6 linked regions of the Homo sapiens genome follow. The protein of the gene in region 1 interacts with the protein of each later gene in a pairwise test. Each region holds a gene or a part of one and is shown in the gene's direction. Other genes may lie near its edges. The genes, in order: PLIN3, SMAD2, PBX3, TBC1D13, ACMSD and TBPL1.

Region 1 (3,500 bases):
CCCAGTTGGGAGGGGGGAATCTCAAAGGCCCTTGGAGGGCCTGAGGGAGCAGGGTTCTGTCTGAAACTACCTGCCCTCCCCAACCCCTGAGCCAAATCATCCTCACCTCTGAAGGCTCTCTCAGGGACGTCCTAGGAGGCCAGTTTCTATTCCAGATCTCTCATCCTCAGGTGATTTTATTTTATGTATATATTTTTGAGATGGAACCTTGCTGTGTCGCCCAGCCTGGAGTGCAGTGGTGACATCTTGGCTCACTGCAACCTCTGCCTCCTGGGTTCAAGCAATTCTCCTGCCTCAGCCTCCCAAGTAGCTGGGGTAACAGGCATGTGCCACCACGCCCGGCTAATTTTTGTATTTTTAGTAGAGACGGAGTTTCACCATGTTGGCCAGGCTAGTCTCAAACTCCTGACCCAAAGTGACCCACCCGCCTCGGTCTCCCAAAGTGCTCGGATTACAGGCGTGAGCCACTGCTCCTGGCCCCAAAAATAATTAAAATTTAAAAATCAAGTGGTGCGCTGGCTGTGACCCATGGGCTGTGGTCTACAGCCCCCGGTTTAGACCCTAACTGCCATGAGAATGGAACTGTTGTCCCTTATCACCACCTGGCACATCGCTGGGATAAAGTGCAGGCTCATGTAAATAGCCTGTGTTCAAGGAAGCACGTGGGCTGAGTGCGGTGGCTCACGCCTGTAATCCCAGCACTTTGGGAGGCTGAGGTGGGCGAATCACGAGGTCAGGAGTTCAAGACCAGCCTGGCCAACATGGTGAAACCCCATCTCTACTAAAAATACAAAAAAATTAGCTGGGCGTGGTGGCACCCGTAATCCCAGCTACTCAGGAGGATGAGGCAGGAGAATCGTTTGAACCTGGGAGGTGGAGGTTGCAGTGAGCTGAGATCGCATCAGTGCACTCCAGCCCGGGCAACAGTGCAAGACTCCGTTTCAAAAATAAAATAAAAATAAAGGAAGCACGTGGCGAAACCCCAAGGTTCCTGGCTTGTGCAACTGCCTGGATGCAAAGTGTGGGTAAACTGAGCCGTTTCACTGGCCAGGAGTAAGAGCAAAACTGCAGGGCACCCTGAGTTTCCGGCTGAGCTCCCCATCTTCCCCCACCCAGTTTGCCTGAGCCACTTCTCTCCTGTAGCCCAGTGTGGTGGACCGTGTGGCCAGCATGCCTCTGATCAGCTCCACCTGCGACATGGTGTCCGCAGCCTATGCCTCCACCAAGGAGAGCTACCCGCACATCAAGACTGTCTGCGACGCAGCAGAGAAGGGAGTGAGGACCCTCACGGCGGCTGCTGTCAGCGGGGCTCAGCCGATCCTCTCCAAGCTGGAGCCCCAGAGTGGGTGAAGTCCCAGGGGGCACTGAATTCCCCTCCTGGTCATTTCCCTGGGTGGGGAGTAGGGGGGTCTACCCAGCTCTTGGTCCTGTCCCCCTGAACCATTACTAGGTGACCTTCCAGCAGTCACATTTGCGTCTTAATTGTTGTTGGCAGTTGCATCAGCCAGCGAATACGCCCACAGGGGGCTGGACAAGTTGGAGGAGAACCTCCCCATCCTGCAGCAGCCCACGGAGAAGGTAACGATGTCCGTCCTCAGGGGCTCTGTCGAGACAGGGACCTACCTGGGTGTGGAGTGCGCTGGTCCCAGCTTAACTAGACAAGCTTGATGGCATCCTCCCTGCTGCCTCTCCTGTCGGTTCCCATCCCCACCCCGAATCCACTCCCCACAGGGTAGCTGGAGGAATAATTGCAAAGCCAGCCAGATTACAGGCGCCTGCAACCATGCCCATCTAGTTTTTGTATTTTTAGTAGAGATGGGGTTTCACCATGTTGGCCGGGCTGGTCTCGAACTCCTGACCTCAGGTGATCCAGCTGCCTCAGCCTCTCAAAGTGCTGGGATTATAGGAATGAGCCACGGTGCCCAGCCCACTTGTTTTTATAATAAAGTTTTATTGGCACACAGCCATGCCCATTTATTTACATATTGTCTATGACTGCTTTCACCCTACAATGGCAAGGTTGAGTAGTTGTGACAGAGACTGTGACCCACAGTACTGAAAATCTTAGTTACGTGGCCCTTTACACAGAATGTTGCCACCTCCATAACTTATTAGTCAGAAAAGGTTGGCGGCAGGAAAGTCAAAACATCAAAACACCATGTTCCTGGCCGGGCGCGGTGGCTCATGCCTGTAATCCCAGCACTTTGGGAGGCCAAGGCGGGAGGATCACCTGAGGTTGGGAGTTTGAGACCAGCCTGACCAACATGGAGAAACCCCGTCTCTACTAAAAATACAAAATTTATCTGGGTGTGGTAGCGGGTGCCTGTAATCCCAGCTACTCGGGAGGCTGAGGCAGGAGAATTTCTTGAACCCTGGAGGCGGAGGTTGCAGTGATCCGAGATCATGCCATTGCACTCTAGCCTGGGCAGCAAGAGTGAAACTCCATCTCAAAAAAAAAAAAAAAAACCAAAAAAACACCATATTCTGGCCAGGCGCGGTGGCTCATGCCTGTAATCCCAGTACTTTGGGAGGCTGAGGTGGGCGGATCACAAGGTCAGGAGATCGAGACCATCCTGGCAAACACAGTGAAACCCCATCTCTACTAAAACTACAAAAAAAAAAATTAGCTTGGCGTGGTGGCGTGTGCCTGTAGTCCTAGTTACTCGGGAGGCTGAGGCAAGAGAATCACTTGAACCCAGGAGACGGAGGTTGCAGTGAGCTGAGATCGCGCCACTACACTCCAGCCTGGGCGACAGAGCGAGACTCTGTCTCAAAAACAACAAAACAAAAAAAACACCATGTTCCAAACTGTGTCCTGCCCCTCAGCAGCTGGGTGGCCCTCACACAAGTTACTTTGCCTCTGTGGGCCTCACTTTTTTTTTTTTTTTTTTTTTTTTGAGACGGGGTCTTGCTCTGTTGCCAGGCTGGTGTGCAGTGGTGCAATCTCGGCTCACTGCAACCTCCACCTCCGGGTTCCAGCGATTCTCCTGCCTCAGGCTGCTGAGTAGCTGGGGTTGCAGACGTCTGCCACCACGCCTAGCTAATTTTTGTATTTTTAGTAGAGACGGGGTTTCACCAAGTTGGCCAGGATGGTCTCAATCTCTTGACCTCGTGATCCTCCCGCCTCGGCCTCCCAAAGTGCTGGGATTACAGGCATGAGCCACTGTGCCCGGCCCCCTCTTTTTTTTTTTAAGATGGAGTTTCGCTCTTGTTGCCCAGGCTGGAGTGCACTGGTGCAGTTTCAGCTCACTGCAACCTCCACCTCCCAGGTTCAAGCGATTCTCCCGCCTCAGCCTCCCGAGTGGCTGGGATTACAGACATGTGCCACCACACCTGGCCAATTTTTGTATTTTTAGTAGAGATGGGGTTTTACCATGTTGGTCAGGCTGGTCTCGAGCTCCCGACCTCAGGTGATCCACCTGCCTTGGCCTCCCAAAGTGTTGGGATTACAGACATGAGCCACCAGGCCCAGCCTGGGTCCCACTTTCTTTTCTACAGAA
Region 2 (3,500 bases), on another chromosome or scaffold:
GCAGTTGCCCTTGCGTGCTGTACTCAGACTTGGAGGAAGTGATGTCTTATTCAAGGCCAGTTTTTGTACTAGTGGTTAAATAAATGGTTTCCAAATTGGAGTCAGAAGGAGAGCTTCTAAAATGTAGGTTCCCTGGCCTCAATTGTGAGATTCTGCTTTAGCAGGTCTGGAATTGGAGCACTGGGATCTGCATTTTCAGAAAACCCAAAATGATTATCAGCCAGGACTTAAACCTCTGCTTTAGACCACATTCCCTGTGGGCTTTCAGATTTTCTATCAATGTTCTTCCCTCTTCCCAGCTCCCACACATTAAAACTCAGATCATGCAGAAAAGAAGTTACAGTTCCTTCATTTCACATCAATTTCTCATGCATCCCATCTGGTTTTGGGAAGGTGTGGGACGAGGTGGATGGCCTTAAACTTGCCAATCAAAGATAACGTTCTCTTTCGATTCAAATAGCCTATCTCAGGCTTAAAACCATCTCTTTGGATAAATGCTCAGCTTTTCAAAGGTTCTTCCTAGCTTCTTCCTCATGATGGCATCTAGTGGGTGAGAACAGTCATCTCCAGGTGACACAGGAAAGAGTTTCTCTAATGTATGTGCTGAGGTCCTTGACGGTCCTGCTGCTGGTGCTCATCCTGCCATCTTTGCTGGATGTCACTGAGTCTACTGGGTAATGTAAGTGGGTCCCTGGCTTTTGTTCACTGCTGTCATGCCCTGCTCCTGACCACAACTCTGTCATTGCCTTTGGTCTCAAGGTCTCTACCTTAATAGCTTCCATGTCCCAACTATGGGACTGTTAATCTGCTGGGCTTTGGAGTGGGTGGGAAGGGATGATGTTGGAACTTTGGGATGTACTGAACATCTTGCTCAAGCTTTGGGAAGCCAACATTTTCTCAGACTGACTAGACACCTCCTTCCACCAATGCTGAGCTAGTGCTCCTGTGCCATACTGGGTAAGCCTCTAAGTCATGAGTAGGACTTTTTTGAGTGGCTTGCAGTCTTCCCCAGGCTATGCCAGGAAAGTAGTTGACTAACCCTGCTGCTCCAAGACTCGCATACCCATCCTGAAGTTTCCGTTTATTTCCCAACAGGGCAATTGCAATCTCAATCAATCTCTCCCTGCCCTGGGAGTCATTCCACTCCTGCCTAATGAAGAGACTCTTCTCACATCGTATTCTCAGTTTCTCTTATCCATGGTTAGGAGTAAAACTCATGTTCAGTTGTCCAAGCTTTGCTTTTAGTATGTGAATGGAGCTCTTAGCATGTAGAACTCCCTTCTCATTCTCAGTAAAGTCTGACTTTGAAGACTACTTATCATCTTCCTAGAGATGCCAAAGAATAATCAAGATAATAAAGGCAGGCTCTGAGATTCACAGCTGAGTAGCAACTGTGCTGTTACTCTAGTACACACCCTCTCCTTTCCTGTGACTGTCAGGCTTCAGGGCTTACCTTTATTGGAAAGACAGCAGGGGGGCATATATGAAGAAAATGGAATCTTTAATATTGTCAAAGTCTTGACCCAATAGAGACATTCTTGCCCCAGACTCTCTTGCTTCAGTGCCTTTGCCTGTTCTGGTCCTAAGTACCTTGAATATCCTTCTCTTGATGCCCTGATATAAAACTCTTTATTCCTCAAAGCCAAGTTCAGGTTATCACCTCCACCACAGACTTTTCTTTCCCTCCCCAAACTTCATTGCCTCTTCTCATCACTCCCTTTGTAATTTGTTTATACTGGTAAGAGAGCATTCATCATAATTAGGCCTATCTATGCCTACCTTTCTTGTTAAATTATGAGCTTTGTTCTGCCTTGGATATCTCTCTGGCTTGGATATCTCTCTGGCCTTTGCTCTGCACTTCCAAATGTATCCATTATTCAAGACCCAGGTTTCCAGCCTGATCAACATAGCAAGATCCCATCTCTCCAAAAAAAAAAAAAAAAAAAAATTGTGGGGCCGGGTACAGTGGCTCATGCCTGTAATCCCAGCACTTTGGGAGGCCGAGGCAGGTGGATCATGAGGTCACGAGTTTGAGACCAGTCTGGCCAACATAGTGAAACCCCATCTGTACTAAAAATGCAGAAAATTAGCCGGGTGTGGTGGTGTGTGCCTGTAATCCCAGCTACTCGGGAGGCTGAGGCAGGAGAATCGCATGAACCCGGGAGGCAGAGGTTGCAGTGAGCCGAGATTGCGCCACTGCACTCCAGCCTGGGTGACATTGCAAGACTCCATCTCAAAAAAAAAAAAAAAAAAAATTAGCTGGGCATGGTGGCAGGCACCTGTAGTCCCAGCTACTTGAGAGGCTGAGGTGGGAGGATTGCTTGAGCCCAGGAAGTCGAGGCTTCATGAGCCATGTTTGTGCTACTGCACTCTAGCCTGGATGACAAAGTGAGATCCTTTTCTAAAAATAAGGACCCAGTTTATTTTATTTAGTTATTTAGTTATTTTTGAGACCAAGTTTCATCACTCAGGCTGGAGTGCAATGGCACAGTCTTGACTCACTGCAACCTCTGCCTCCTGGATTCAAGCAATTCTTCTGCCTCAGCCTCTTGAGTAGCTGGGATTGCAGGTGCCCGCCACCACACCTGGCTAATTTTTGTATTTTTGGTAGAGACAGGGTTTCACTATGTTGGCCAGGCTGGTCTCAAACTCCTGACCTCAGGTGATCCACCTGCCTTGGTCTCCCAAACTGCTGGGATTACAGGTGTGAGTCACCCTGCCTGGCCAGAACCCAGTTTAAATTCCATCCTCTCTGCAGAGTCTTCCTTAACCACCCCTATTGAAAGTTACCCCTGCTTCCTACAAGAAGTGGTACTTGGATGTTCATGAGATACCTGTGCAAGGCTCCTGTGGGGGTCCTGGGGAGACAGTGACATGGACACTCATGAAAGGAACCTTGGAATAGCGAGTGTGTGTGCTATAAAATGTGCTTTAGATTTGATTACCACCACTTAAGTTATGAGCTCTGATATGGTTTGGGTCTCCATCCCCACCCAAATCTCATCTTGAATTGTAATCCCTACATGTTGAGGGAAGGAAGTAATTGTATTATGGGGGTGGTTCTCCCATGCTGTTCTCATGATAGTGAATTCTCACAGGATCTGATGGTTTTATAAATGGTAGTTTTTCCTGTACTTTCACACACTCACACTCTCTTCTGCCACCTTGTGAAGAAGGTGCCTGCTTCCCCTTCTGCCATAATTGTAAGTTTCCTGAGGCCTCCCCAGCTGTATTAGTCTGATCTCACGCGGCTAATAAAGAGATACCGGAGACTGGGTAATTTATAAAAGAGGTTTAATTGACTCACAGTTTTACATGGCTGGGGAGGCCTCACAATTATGGCAGAAGGTGAAGGGGGAGCAAGACACATCTTACATGGCATCAGGCGAGAGAGCTTGTGTAGGGGAACTCCCCTTTATAAAACCATCAGATCTCGTGAGACTTATTCACTATTACAAGAGCAGCACGGGAAAGACCCACCCCCATGATTCAGTTACCTC
Region 3 (3,500 bases), on another chromosome or scaffold:
TGACCTGATTAAACCTATGAATTGTCAGCTATGATCTATAGTACTCAGAAGAGGTTGCTGACTGGGCATCACTTAGGAAGTTCTTGATTTAAAAGCAAAATTAGATTGAGACTACTGTGCCCAGCACTGTATTGCCATGTCAATGGCACATTTTTAATACTGTATTTAGTATCCTCGTTTTATAGTTTGCTGGCAATTGCTTAACAATATTCATTTAATAATATATATATATTTAAGTATAGCCAGTTACCTCATAATGTGTGTATTCCTCTTCTGAAATCACACGATGGAAAAGCTCATCTAATGTTGTTTATTTTTCAATTTTTGATTACAGCTTGTGAATTAACTATTTTATGGGAATTTTAATTCTGTTTCTCCAACTGTACAGAGAGAGACAGAATAACCACCTTTGGATGAGTTGTTTTATATCCCTGTAATTATTTTCTTTCTTTCTTAAAACATTCAATTTTTTACCCTCTTCCCATTTTATGCTTAAATTATCTAAATCTGGGAAGCTTGAATGATTAAAATATTCCAGGAAGCCAGGGTTACCTTTTTCTAAGGATCTAGTCTGTGGTAAATTGAGGCGGTGGGGGGGTATTTAAAATTCTAGGGTGCATGTAAACACTATCTTAAAAATAATTTTCATACTTATTCAAACTTACCGATCAAATGTGAACAATGAAGTTCTCAGCATGAATTGTAGTACACTGATGTTGTTTGATCATTTTCTCGAATAAACAAAATACTCACACTATTTGTCCTCTGTTTCTCGCTTCTTCTCTCTCTGTCTCTCTCTCTCTTTCCTTGAAGGTCTCAGCATCAGAGGAGCCCAGGAGGAGGACCCTCCCGATCCCCAGCTAATGAGACTGGACAATATGCTTTTGGCAGAAGGGGTTTCAGGTCCTGAGAAAGGTGGGGGATCGGCGGCAGCAGCTGCAGCCGCGGCAGCCTCTGGAGGTTCTTCAGATAACTCTATTGAACACTCAGATTACAGAGCCAAATTGACCCAGATCAGACAAATCTATCACACAGAACTGGAGAAATATGAACAGGTCAGCAGCCGCCACTCTCATAGTCCTACACAAACCCTCTGTTGCTCTTCTATTAGACCATGCTAACCAATTCTGAGGGCTGTGAGGGGTAGGTGTTAACACAAATTACAAAATAAATAAGGTCAGTGCAAAAATCCAAGTGAATTGTTGGATTCATGAAAGGAAGACCCTTTGAGATTTTGGAGGAGGAGCGCTACCTATTTTATCCCATCTACTTGTTTTAGTTTTATTCATTCCGCACATTCACGTGCCCTTATTACCACACCTGCAGTCATTCTTCCCTCTCACCTCACCACTTGGTGCTCTTCAAAGCTCTGTATAATTAACATTTATGCACTAGCCTTGTTCATAAGCTTTAATCACTTTTGAAGGGAAGCATTGCACAGTGAGCTTTTCCCTCCTATGCTGTGAGCTCCAGAATCCTCCTGGGAATTAATTCTTATGGATTGTGCCAGACTATAGGGAACTTCACCAAGTAAGCAGGTTCCGGCCTGTTTCTCTGAGTATGAGACCTCCCAAGATAATTATGGGTACCCCAGGACAGGGAATGCTAGGCAAGGCATTATGTGCTAAATTCCTTATTAGAAAGAGAATATGGGTTAAAAATCTGGTTCTCAGCAATTATATTAACCATACTGAATCTCAGATAACTTTAAGTTGCATCTTTATGTAACACCAAGAAAAAATTAATACTGCTAGTTTAACTATAAAATATTACTGATTATAAAATGCTTTCACATTTCAGAGATGTTAAAATGTGGAGAAAAACAAGAGAGTCTTAGATTTAATGTAATAAAGTAAAATATTGGTGGGTCTTTTTACATATATTTTAGTTGTTAGTTTAATGCTGAAAAGCTGCCAAGTTTGAGGAATTCTCATTTGATAAGATTTGTCATTTGGAAGGTAATTTTAAAAACGTATTATGAAACATTTTATAATACATGTACACAAAAATAATGAGAATAGTATTAGATTGAACCCTATGAAATTGCTAAGTTTTGAGGCCAAAAACAGTTGAATATGGTAATTTCATAGAGTTCAACCCCAAATAAGGAATCAGAATCAGCTAGATACTTTTTACCCAGATAAACAGTTATCAACATTTTGCCACTCTTATTTTGTGTACCCAGCCCCAATTTGGTAAGAGTATTTTAAAGCAAGTCTTAGACATCCTATAATTTCACCCATGAGTATTTCACTATGTAGGCAAGTACTTTTTAAAGTCCACACACTTTAGTGTGAAATGGGAGTCCTGGTGAGTTTTGTGTGTGTTTGTGTGTATTTTAAAGACTCTTTTAAAGAGGAGTTTTAAGTTCACAGACCAATTTGAGAGGAAAGAAGAGAGATATCACATATACCTCCTGTCCCCACACATGCATAGTCTCTCCCATTATCAGCATCCCCCACCAGAGGGGTTCATTTGTTAAAATTGATTAACCTACATTGACACATCATTATCACCCAAAATCCATAGTTTACATTAGGGTTCACTCTTGGTATTGTGCACTCTATGGATTTGGATAAATTTATGATGGCATGTACCCATCATTATAGGGTCATGCAGAGTATTTTCACTGCCCTAAAGATCCTCTGTGCTATTCATCCCTCTCTTCTTTTATTCTTTCCTTCCCACTGATCCCTGGCAACCCCTGATCAGTTTTAATACTGATTTTTTCCCCTCTACATTCCCTGTATAGTTTCAATTATATATATCGTTGTTTTTTCACATTGCCTTTTCTAATATTCTGGATACAATGGTATTAAGCAAATGCTGAATCCTATCCCAGAGGTGAGTGTGTTTTGAGGAAGAGTAGAAAAATTTGTATAGCTTTAAGTTAAAAAGTAGTGTAAATTAATATTATAAGGTGTTTTCTATTTTTGGAATAGGATTTTCTGAGATCTAAAATTGTATGTCTAGTCTCATTTGTAAGAATAACTTCTTGTGGAAAATGTACAAATAAGAATTTTGGAAAAATTATCGTGTGTATGTATGTAAAAATCCCACTTTCTGATTTGACATATGAATAATTGAGAGTAAACAAAATAAGTCATGGTTGAAAAGGTTGCCCCTGAGCATAAACAGTAGAAAATGACTCTTATTTGTAGTATAATCCTAATTGTATAACTTTATGCTAAAATAACTATAACTACTTACTAGATAAACACTACCAGTCACCTTGCATGGAAAGAGATATAATATTAGAGGCCAAATGGCCTGAGTTTTTTGGCTGAGGAATTAAGGTGATTCCTTACTACCTCTTGCCATGTGTCTTTACACCTGCCTCCTTACTTTCTCCATACACTCTGGTGGAAGTTGTGTGAAGCTGGTGTCAGTCAATGACAAGGTCCTGAGTCTCACTGTTTTAGAAATATCCTACAAAATTTTCCATGAGATTTTATGTAACTTTAGCCCCAGCTTATACCAGCATCAAATCACCAGGGTTT
Region 4 (3,500 bases), on another chromosome or scaffold:
AGTATTTTCTTTCCTTTTTCTCTTAAACTCCTGGCCACAAGGTGTCGGGCCATGACCATCTGCTTGACAGTTACTCAGCGCAATCCTGATGCTGCCAGATCCTGGGGTGCTTTCTAAAAGTTGGGTAACAGAGGTTCACTGTGTCCCATCTGGGTGTAATGGCTGCTGGGAAGGGCCCTGCATCACAGTGAGTGAATGAGCCAGGCTTCTAATCTTATAGTGGGGATGGCTCTGAGAAGGTCATTACAAATGTGAGAAAATGTGATAGGGCTGGGCACAGTGGTTCACGCCTGTAATCCCAGCGCTTTGGGAGGCTGAGGCAGGAGGATTGCTTGAGCCCAGGAGTTCAAGACCAGCCTGGGCTACATGGTGAAACCCTGTCTTTACAAAAAATACAAAAATTAGCTGGGCATGATGGCATGTGCCTGTAGTCCCAGCTACTCAGGAGGCTGAGGTAGGAGGATGGTTTGAGCCTGGGAGGCAGAGGTTGCAGTGAGCCTACATCACACTACTGCCCTCCAGCGTGGGTGACAGAGCCAGACCCTGTCTCAAAAAAATAAAAATTAAGAAAACGGCCAGGCACAATGGCCCATGCCTGTAATCCCAGCACTTTGGCAGGCCAAGACAGGCAGATCACTTAAGGCCAGCAGTTCAAGACCAGCCTGACTAACCCGGGGATTTAACCCCATCTGTACTGAAAATACAAAAATTTGGCCCTGGCCAGGTGTGGTGGCTCATGCCTGTAATCCCAGCACTTTGGGTGGCCGAGGTGGGTGGATCACCTGAGGTCAGGAGTTCAAGACTAGCCTGGCCAACATGGTGAAACCTTGTCTCTACTAAAAATACAAAAATTAGCTGGGCATGGTGGCAGGTGCCTGTAATCCCAGCTACCCGGGAGGCTTAGGCAGTAGAATTGCTCGAACCCGGGAGGTGGAGGTTGCAGTGAGTCTAGATTATACCACTGCATTCCAGCCTGGGTGACAAAACGAGACCCTGTCAAAAAAAAAAAGAAAAGAAGAGAACATTCCAGGTGGAGAGGAGGGCATATGCCGAAGTCCTCAGCGGGAGAGAGCGTGGTGTGTTCCAGGTCAGGGAGGCCACGGGGTGGCTAGAAGCAGAGAGCGAGTGAAGAGGTTGGTGCTGGTAAGGCCACTTGGGGCCTTTGTCATGAGGGGTGGGGAGAATCCTTTACAGCAGTGTAAGCAGGGCAGTGACATAATTCACATCTGCTTGTGTCGGAAATGCTTTAGGCACTGTGGAGATACAGGAGTGGCGGTAGAGAGGCTACCTGGAAGGCCACTGCAGTTGTCTAGGCAAGAGGTGGTGGGGGCAGGGATGCAGCAGGGTTAGATCTGAGAGACTCTGGGTGGAACTGATAGGACCCCCAACTTTTAATAGATTCCTGTCACTCTGAGAAGCTCCTTGTAGTCAAACAAGTATATTATCTTATTCCTTAATTTACACCCCCTACTTTGGTCTCTGGAATAGTGGCTTGTTCCCCTAAACTTTTCACTGTCTTCCATCAATGGAAAAACCCTTTTCTGTAGCCTCCAACAAGCTAGGGCAGATACTGCTGCAGAAGTTTTTCTCCCCCTGGGGAATGACTTTGTTTTTTGTTTGTTTGTTTGTTTTATTTTTTTAAATAGAGACAGAGTCTTGCGATGACACCCAGACTGGTTTTGAACTCCTGAGCTTAAGCGATCCTCCTACCTGGGCCTCCCAGAGTGCCAGGATAACAGGCGTGAGCCACCACACCCAGCTGGAAATGACTTTGATCGAAGCTCTGACAGGCAGGGGCAGATATGGCCGATCCAGGGTTGCAGGTGCCTACGAGAGTTGGGTGCCCAGCAGAACTGCTGTGCAGTGCAGATTGCGTGACTAGATAACCAGGAGGCTGGCTTTGTGGGCAGTACTCTTGGCTGCTGATTTCCTGGCTGAAGGGCCGGGAGGGGACTGGCTCCTGTCATTCCTTTCACTGTAGTAACTAGGTGTAAAGAGCACTGTTACCTGGTTTAACTTTTGGTCCTGGTAGCAGAGAACCCACCAGAAACTTCATCCCTAAGCCTCTGGGTTCGTGATTGGGCAGTTTGAGTTAAAGACCATCTGTGTGACTCTGGGCAAGTCACACATATCCTGGCCTTTGTTTCCTAGACCATAAACTGGGCATAATCATTTCTGCCCTGCCTGAGCTGCCAAGAGGATGAAATGAGGTCATGGCTGTGCAGATTCTTCAAAAGCAGAAAGCCCTGGGCATCCTCAGGAGGCAGCCTGCCCTGAAGTCCTGGACCTTAGGTTTGGGAGTCAGCCAGTTCAGGGTCAAGTCCTGATGCCAACACCTAATGTTAGACATTTAAGGAGTGGCCCGACATTTCTGAGCCTCAGTTTCCTCATCTTGAAAATGATGTTGAGAGAATATTTTAGATTGTTCAGTGGATTAAATGGAGGAATACCTGTACAGCATTGTCTGCCGCATAAAAAGCTCTTGTTAAGGGCCAGGCGTGGCTCACGCTTGTAATCCCAGCACTTTGGGAGGCTGAGGCGGGCGGATCATGAGGTCAGGAGATCGAGACCATCCTGGCTAATATGGTGAAACCCCGTCTCTACTAAAAATACAAAAAATTAGCCAGGTGTGGTCGCAGGCGCCTGTAGTCCCAGCTACTCGGGAGGCTGAGGCAGGAGAATGGCGTGAACCCGGGAGGCAGAGCTTGCAGTGAGCCGAAATCGCGCCACTGCACTCCAGCCTGGGCGACAGAGCGAGACTCCGTCTCAAAAATAAAAAATAAAAAAGCTCTTGGTAAATGTGGCTGATGTGTGTCTGTGTGTGTGAACATCCCTGCATGTGTGCGCATACATATGTATGTGTATGTTAGGGGAGAGAGAGTTTAATGTCTCCAGGACCCTATGCTTCCAGGATGGCTTCATCCACTGTCACTGCCTGGGTTCTCGCATATGGGTCACTCACCTCTGGAGCTTCCGCCTGAGCAGGCCTAGGGCCGGGCCCAGCACTTGATTTACAAAGTTCCCAAGGGATCCTGGCAGGCAGCTGGTGTTGGGGACCCGTGCTCATTGTAGGAGTCTTCAGTAGGGATCATCATCTCTTTATTTATCTTCCAACTTTTTTTTTTTTTTTTTTTTTTTGAGACAGTCTCGCTGTTTCTTCCAGGCTGGAGTGCAGTGGCACAATCTTGGCGCTCTGCAACCTCTGCCTCCTGGATTCAAGCAATTCTCGTGCCTTAGCCTCCTGAATAGCTGGGATCATCGGCGCGTGCCACCACACCTGGCTAATTTTTGTATTTTTAGTAGAGATTTTTGGCCAGGGTGGTCTCGAACTCCTGACCTAAAGTGATCCACCCACCTCAGTTTCCCAAAGTGCTGGGATTACAGGTGTGAGCCACTGTGCCTGGCCTCCAACCTTTTCTTATGAAAATTTTCAAACATTCAGGAAAGTTGAAAGGAGAGTACACTGGATAACTATCTGTATACTTTCCATCTAAATGCAA
Region 5 (4,175 bases), on another chromosome or scaffold:
GGCCCATTGGGAGTGCTCTAAAAATGCTTGCACTTACTTACTCAGTATTAGCAAGTGCCTCCATGTTAGTTTAAGGCTTACTCATTCAGTTTTAGCTCACTGAACTTCTAAAAAAATGGATTTCAAGGATTTCCTTTATTTTCTTTCAAGCTGTCTGTTATAATTTATCCAGAATCTAGCTGAATTACAGAAGGAAGCTTTTTGACTACTCAATTTATGTGTTGTGGAGTCTGAGCTGAAGGCAGCAACCAAGGCAGGTTTAAGGGTTTGCCAGGGGACCTGGGGTCCCTTGAACATTTTAAGCTGTTCAGGAAGAGGAAAGGGTAAACACAGAACAATCAAGGGCTGTTTTGTTCCAGGCTCTCTTTAGAGGCATGACCATATAAGCCCCACTTTCTGCTATATTGGAAGCCCTCCCTGACTGCTCTGATAATGCTAAATGGAAATGGCTACTATCTTCTTTTCCCTACACTTTAGGATATGTATCATCTTTCTCTCAGTCAACCTTACATCGTCAGCATATAGCAGTTCTCCATAAATGTTTGTTAAATGCATGAATGAAGCTGGGTGCAGTGGCTCTCGCCTGTAATCCCAGCACTTTGGGAGGCAAAGGTGGGTGGATTGCTTGAGCCCAGGAATTCCATACCAGCCTGGGCAATATAGTGAGACCGCATCTCAAATTAAAAAACAAAAAAAAAAGGAAAAAAATGCATGAATGAATGAGTCCAAGACAAAGGCACTGGAGGAAAAAACATATATGAAGAGTGGACTCTTTCTGTGATTTAAAATGTGAAACCTCCCCATAACTTTTCAACACGTTAAATTTTCATGAACAAGACAACTGTTAAATATTATTTAAAGATATGGGAGTAACTAACTGAACAAAAAGCAAAATCATAAAAACTGGCTGCTTCTGAATAGTGCAAGGAAAAGTAAGAAAAGGTGAGTCAGGGATCTATCCTTTTTCTGTAAAAGCCCTCTGCATGGTTTTATTTTTAACTACAAACTATTTAATTATTAACTATGTACAACTAAGTTAAAATATTTAAAATGAAAAATCAGTCAATTTTTGACCTGCTGTAAGTCAAAGCATCCTGCTGTGCTTTTGACCTCATACAGTTGAGTACAGTTGTTTTTTTGTTTTTGTTTTTGTTTTTGTTTTTTTAAGTTTTGTGCCAAGAGTCCTGACTACCAAACTGTGTTGACCCAAAGCTTGATTAACAAATAAAGCTTGGTTAACCAAAGCTTGGTTAACAAATAAACAGAACTTTGAACTTTAATAAAGCAGTTCTAATGGACCTAGACTGGGTTGGGCAGGCCTACTGACTGCTGCCTGAAGGTTGCTGTAAAGGGACTAAGTAAATCAATTAACTCCACAGTTTTCACAAAGGTCTCTTGATATCAAAACTTCTTTCCTTGCATGCTTCTCTGATCCTGTGGAGATGAAAATTGACATCCATAGTCATATTCTACCAAAAGAATGGCCAGATCTAAAAAAGGTAATGGTAATTAATTTGCTGAATTATTTCTGAAACTTCTCCAGGGTTTCTCAATGCCTTTCTCTTCTTTGTGGAATTAGATGTCTAGTTTATCTGCTTTGGTGGGGGGCGAGGGGGTTAAATCATTTGGTAGTTCTGATTTTCTAGCTTTTAAAAATGACTTTTATATTTATTTTGAAATAACATTGGATTAAAGAAATAAGTGCTTTCTCAGAAACCCTTTTTTCCCTCAAATGAACCATTCTTTAAAATATCTGGACAATTTAAATAAGGCAGATTTACCTTTTCAAAAATCACATATTCAGCTGCTGGGAAGATACATGCCAACTACAGAATTTAAAGTTACAATTTTAAGTAGAAGACCATTAAAAATGGAATGTGATCGGTTTCAAGGACTTCTAAAATATATCTCCTTTCCAAAATGTTTAAAATAAGTTTTAGAAGCACCAAGAGATAGCTTTGTGAATTTTTTTAGTCTATTTTAGGACACTGCCTGAAACCTTTACTGTTTGATGTTCTTTATTCTATAAATCTTTGTCCTGAAGAACTAGGAAGTAGGTACATCAAAAAACCCGAGAATAAATGACATGAAGCTTTTGCACAGTGACATCTCCTAAGAGAGTATTCTTTGTGTTTCTCTAAAGATGGAAATTTCCTTTTGTCATTAAGAACTTTTGAATGAATATAAAAAGAGGAAGGTGAGGAACATGAAAGAAATGTAAAATTGGCTAGAGGTTTGTTCAGGCTTAATATCAGGTTTTACCCAATCTTCAGCATTCTGCCAGTACTTTCACACCACCGATAATGTTTCAACTTTTTTATCCCAAGTGAGGGAAAATGAATTAACCCAAACTTGAATTAAATGTGGTTCATTGTGCAAATAGATGAAACTATTTTCTTCTCATAGTTGTCTCATTGAAGAATGTTTATCTTAAGTATTTCTTTGTCCATTGGTATCTTAGGTAAGAGGGGTGGTAGAAACTGTGGATTGAAAAACAAAATCTTTGAAAGCCTATCCTATGCACAGCTAACGATAAAAGATAAACCTCTCAACCTGCTCTTCCTAAAAGGACTCTACATGTTTACACAGGAACATGCTGTTCTGAGTGCTGTTGTCCTCATCATAGTTTACTGAAGTGTAAACCACTTCACAATGTTAATGATTTCATGAAGGGAATGCACCAGTTACTTTGTGGGAGTGCATCTGCCTTGTTTAGAAGCTGCATGCAGTTTCTTACATCTTATGGCGCCCACCACTTTCTACCCCTCATTTATGAGTATTTGCCTGATGAATGATGCAATGAACACATTGACTAACTTGTGATACAGGTAATGGAAGCAATAGATTATACTCCCTAATCTGAGAGTTTTAGAAAAATCCAAATTTTAGTATTTGGTATTTTAAAATAGCCATAAACTATACCTAGCAAAAAAAAAAAAAAAAAAAAAAAAAACCACTAATTCCTCTGTTACAGCTTTTTTCTCTATTTGAGTATGAAAGAATATCCACATGAAATGCTTTGGAAACCACCACGGTGGTCTCTAGAGGACAACGCCCCCCTGTACTATCCCACTGAGAAAGCTAGCTAGCATGATCGACCCTCCAAGCAGGGCTCCAAGCTCCAGGGCATACACCTCCTTGTGCAGACAGGATTTTGAGGCTTAGAGAGAGCTACAGTCTGAATGTGTATGTCCCCCCCAAAATTCAGGTGAAACCCTCATCCACAAGGCAATGGTATTAGGAGATGCAGCCTTCTGGAGGTGATTAGGTAATGAGAGCAGAGCCCTCATGTATGAGATTAGTGCCCTTATAAAGTAAGCCCAAGGAAGCTTGTTCGCCCCTTCTGCCACGTGAGGGCACAGCAAGAAGGCACCATCTTAGAACCAGGAAGCGGGTTCTCACCAGATCTTGGACTTCCCAGCTTCCAAACTCCCTCTCCTTTCTATCACCAGCTATTGCTTTAAAGAGGGAGAGGAATTTTGTCCCAATAAACCAGGTTTCTTCTTCTTTTTTTATTTTTATGTATTTATTTTTATTTCCATAGGCTATTGGGGAACAGGTGGTGTTTGGTTACATGAGTAAGTTCTTTAGTGGTGATTTGTGAGATTTTGGTGCACCCATCACCCAAGCAGTATACACTGCACCCAATTTTAGTCTTTTATCCCTCATCTGCTTCCCACCCTTTCCCCGAGTCCCCAAAGTCCATCGTGTCATTCTTATGCCTTTGCATCCTCATAACTTAGCTACCACTTATGAGTGAGAACATATGATGTTTGGTTTTTCATTCCAAACCAGGTTTCTTCTTATGTAGTAGTCTCATATGCTGCAAGCAGACAGCTGATACACTTCATCATCACCATCTACATCATTTCCATCATTATAGTCATAACACTTCGTACTTCCAGGGAGAGACAGAGGGAGAAATAATTTACATAAACCTTGTGAAATATGCAGATAAGATTTATATTATTCACTTGACAGATGAGATGCTTGAGACTCAGAAATGAACCTAGAATCCCAGAGCTATGAGAGGCCACCGTGGTCCCTCAAGAGCCTCCCCACCACCACACCCATCTTGAGAAAACTGGCCCAAGAGAGTACTGCTGCTGGAATAACCTTGACCTTCTTGCACAATGAAGAGACAGAAAAGCAGAATCAACACGCCTGAAGTGATG
Region 6 (3,500 bases), on another chromosome or scaffold:
CCCTCTGCCTCAGCCTCCCAAAGTGTTGGAATTACAGGCGTGAGCCATTGCACCTGGCCACCTAGTGTTCTTTCTATCACACTCTTTTTCAGGGACAGATGTTGCTGTCTTTCAGATATGAACATAATAAAGTCAATGTGTAACCCAAAAGTGCAAATATGAAGATGGAGATTTGATTTATGACTGTGGACAACATTTATAGGGCCTGTTACTGTTTGAAACTCAGTTAATGAACTTGAAGCTTTTGTGGAACAAGAACCACCCCATCCTTTTTAATTTGTCAGATGCTTCTGGTGAGCCGCAAGCGTTTTTCCTCTCACCTACTTATGGCTGCAGTGTGTTCCTTGGGCATTTCCAGTGACTTGTGTACATGTACAACCTAGGAAAGTTGTAATGAGCATACCTTAATTGCTTGTGGGTTGACCTCCTTCCAGGATCTTTGCTCGTTACAGATTAGGGTGGTTGCAGGGATCACAGACAACCATATTGAAGGCACAATGACTAATTCATTAGACCTTCCTCAACAGAAATTAGTGTGCTAATCTTAAAGGTACTCTGTTCTTTACTCTTCTTTTGTACTGAGGGGGGAGGCCCTCAGTAAGGGATGCTGAGTGGCTCAACAGATTAAAAAGCTATATTGCTAATGGAAATCTGTAGGTCTCAGTATAGCAGAGAAAGCCTTTGGCTGACCAGCCTTTTTTTTTTTTTTTTTTAATTTTAAGAAATTCAACACTACTCCTTGGCTGTGGCCAGTAATCTTGAAACTTCCACTTCAGTGCGCAGTACAAAACAACTTGGATAATTATTTAATTTGTCTGTACATTTAGAATGCATGCCTCTTGATTTACTCTTTCTAGGCTTTTGGTTTTGGCCTATTAAAATTAGAAGAGTTTCAAATGCCTGAAACAATATTCTGAATTTGTTTGTCTTGGTTATATATTTTTGCTGTCTCTTTGGGTATAGAGGAAAAATGGCTTCATCATCACACCCTGTTTAACTTTAACTGAATGGTTGATATCTTGGAAGTGACTGACAGGGTGGCCATTCTCTGATGACCGGCTATAGTGGAATTAGCTGTAGGCTATAGAACATGGGTGAGTTAGAACCCTTGGGGATGAAGAAAAGGAGACAGTAACTTTCAGAGGATGAGAAAAGGGAATATAAAAAATGCTGAAGGTCAGTAGGTGTGTTTTAATTAAAATAATTCTTTTCTTACATCAGAAATATATTTTTGTATTTGTAAAAGCTCCTGGAACACAGTTGCTCTTCAGGATTTGGGGGTCTGACCTAAAACCATTAGTAACTTGTTAGGTGTAGGAGCACTAAGTAGTATAATATACCAGAAAGTGAAGTAAGGGAAGAGTTGGATACTGTTGGAGAACTTGAGTCAGTTGAGGCTACTCAGATTCTTATTGCTATCGTGAAAGATATCTACTGTTTACACTTACCTGCCCCCAACCCCACAAACCATTTTCTCAGTTGTTCTTAAGGTATTCATTTAATTCATCAACTTTTTATTGAGTTTAGGACCAAATGCCAGCAATTCAGCCAAGTTCTAAAGACACACATTTAAATTAAACAGTTATCTTCAAGGAGCTTGGTGTCTGCAGTTCAGTAGACACTTATAACACCAACAGTACCATTCATTTGCTGTGCCCTCTGCCGGGTTGCTCTTCTCCCAGTGTTTCATATGGCTGGCTACTTCTTATCCTTTAAGATCTCTTTTTAAGATTCTTTCTTTCTTTTTTTTTTTTTTTTTTTTTGAGACGGAGTCGTGCTCTGTCACCCATGCTAGAGTGCAGTGGTGCAATCTCGGCTCATTGCAACCTCCGCCTCCCGAGTTCAAGCATTCTTCTGCCTCAGCCTCCTGGGTAGCTGGGATTACAGGTGCACATCACCATGCCCGACTAGTTTTTGTATTTAGTAGAGATGGGGTTTCACCATGTTAATCGGGCTGGTCTTGAATCCCTGACCTCGTGATCCATGCGCCTTGGCCTCCCAAAGTGCTGGGATTACAGGTGTGACCCACCGCACTTGGCCAAGAATTATTTCTTACCTCTTAAGAAAGTTGAAAGACCTTCCCTGGATCATTGCTCCTGAAGTTTCTCTTTCATTATCTCGTTTCCTTTATAACATAGATCACATTCTCTTGATTATTTTGTCAGCCTATTTGTTGTCTTTTTCTTCCACTGAAATACAACTGCCATGAGAGTTGCTTGCCTGACCATTTTGTTCTGAGCTGTATTCCCAGTGTCTACCCGCAGAGCTTGGTTCACATGAGTTGCATACTAAATATGCAATTATGCGTAAAAGTTTCCTAGTTGAAGGAGTGGGGAAAGGACGATTTAGGCAGCTATAAAACCGCGAAACAGTCTGTTATTGGAAGAGGAATGGTGTAAAGCTGAGAATGTTAAGGTGTGTTGGAAGTGGAAGATTAGGTTATATAAGGAAGATCGGGGGTGGGAAGTCCACTGCATTCCAAGGCAAGCAGATGAGATTCTGTTTTTCATTCTAAGAGAGCCAAGAGATGCTTCTTCAGATAGGGAGACAATTAGGAAGATAATCCTGGTAGCTATTTGGTAGATGGATTAGAGCATGGAGAATGCAAGCAGAGAGTTCTATTAGAAGCCTGTAGCCATAATGACATGTGAGCTGGCCTAAAATAAAACGTTGCTTTGGATGCAGAAAAGAAGCTAGATTAAAAGTTAACTGAGCAGAGGAGAAGAATGAGAGATGAAGGATGATTCTGAAATTTCTGGTTGAAGTGAGCGAGTGTTAATTGTGACTCACTCCATTCACAGAATTACAAGGAGATAGAGCAAGATTTCTTGAGGTGCTTAATGAGTTTTGTTTGTATGTGTCGATTTTAATAGATATGCCTAATAGATGATTGGGAATATGGATTCAGATATCTGATAGGTCAGGATAGATGTAGGAGCCAGCCATAAGCTCATAGATAGCAACTGAGGCCTGAAAAGTTTAAAGAGGAAAAGGATTTCAGGCAGTGGTTTATAACCTTTAGGGATCTTAAACCTATTGGTAATATGAAAAAAACAATGGCCTTCTCAGGTACAGATTAGTGTGTATACAATTTCAGGGGGTTCCTAACCTGTGGAACCTATTGTTGAGCTTTTCAGGGTCTGGCATGGATTTCAGTTAAGAACTTCTGATTTAAGGAACAGACAGAGAAGTATATGAGATGGGGAGAGAATTCAAGAAAGCTTCTTCAGAATCCAGGGATAGGACATGGCAAGGGAGCAGTTGGAGAATCAGAAGTTCCCAGTGCTTTATGCTCTAGAGTAGGAGGGAGTTTAAAGTGTGCCATTGAATTCAGCAATGAGCCATTCATTTGTAACATTTTGTACTGTGTAGAGGCAGAAGACAGATTATGCTGGTTTAAAAGCATGAAGTGGAGTTTGGGAAACAAGGGATGGTAAACAGAATGTAGAAGTCTTGATGTTCTCTGAAAAACAGTACTGATAGAAGAATAGAGCCCTTTT

The links.
Region 2: the proteins of PLIN3 (region 1) and SMAD2 interact in a two-hybrid assay, tested with the Homo sapiens proteins (one large-scale study listed by BioGRID and IntAct).
Region 3: the proteins of PLIN3 (region 1) and PBX3 interact in a two-hybrid assay, tested with the Homo sapiens proteins (one large-scale study listed by BioGRID).
Region 4: the proteins of PLIN3 (region 1) and TBC1D13 interact in binary tests that used the Homo sapiens proteins (3 or more experiments, as listed by UniProt).
Region 5: the proteins of PLIN3 (region 1) and ACMSD interact in a protein complementation assay, tested with the Homo sapiens proteins (one large-scale study listed by IntAct).
Region 6: the proteins of PLIN3 (region 1) and TBPL1 interact in a two-hybrid assay, tested with the Homo sapiens proteins (one large-scale study listed by IntAct).

Annotation. Positions count from the first base shown.
Region 1 is NC_000019.10:4,857,668-4,861,167, reverse strand, and holds part of PLIN3 (perilipin-3), read left to right. Parts: intron 1-1,143; coding exon 1,144-1,342; intron 1,343-1,495; coding exon 1,496-1,578; intron 1,579-3,500. UniProt on the Homo sapiens protein: Structural component of lipid droplets, which is required for the formation and maintenance of lipid storage droplets. Required for the transport of mannose 6-phosphate receptors (MPR) from endosomes to the trans-Golgi network.
Region 2 is NC_000018.10:47,812,160-47,815,659, reverse strand, and holds part of SMAD2 (mothers against decapentaplegic homolog 2), read left to right. Parts: 3' UTR 1-3,500. UniProt on the Homo sapiens protein: Receptor-regulated SMAD (R-SMAD) that is an intracellular signal transducer and transcriptional modulator activated by TGF-beta (transforming growth factor) and activin type 1 receptor kinases.
Region 3 is NC_000009.12:125,914,873-125,918,372, forward strand, and holds part of PBX3 (pre-B-cell leukemia transcription factor 3), read left to right. Parts: intron 1-813; coding exon 814-1,055; intron 1,056-3,500. UniProt on the Homo sapiens protein: Transcriptional activator that binds the sequence 5'-ATCAATCAA-3'.
Region 4 is NC_000009.12:128,797,253-128,800,752, forward strand, and holds part of TBC1D13 (TBC1 domain family member 13), read left to right. Parts: intron 1-3,500. UniProt on the Homo sapiens protein: Acts as a GTPase-activating protein for RAB35. Together with RAB35 may be involved in regulation of insulin-induced glucose transporter SLC2A4/GLUT4 translocation to the plasma membrane in adipocytes.
Region 5 is NC_000002.12:134,837,241-134,841,415, forward strand, and holds the start of ACMSD (2-amino-3-carboxymuconate-6-semialdehyde decarboxylase), read left to right. Parts: upstream 1-1,375; 5' UTR 1,376-1,442; coding exon 1,443-1,499; intron 1,500-3,981; exon of another isoform or gene 3,982-4,175. UniProt on the Homo sapiens protein: Converts alpha-amino-beta-carboxymuconate-epsilon-semialdehyde (ACMS) to alpha-aminomuconate semialdehyde (AMS).
Region 6 is NC_000006.12:133,959,724-133,963,223, forward strand, and holds part of TBPL1 (TATA box-binding protein-like 1), read left to right. Parts: intron 1-3,500. UniProt on the Homo sapiens protein: Part of a specialized transcription system that mediates the transcription of most ribosomal proteins through the 5'-TCT-3' motif which is a core promoter element at these genes. Seems to also mediate the transcription of NF1. Does not bind the TATA box.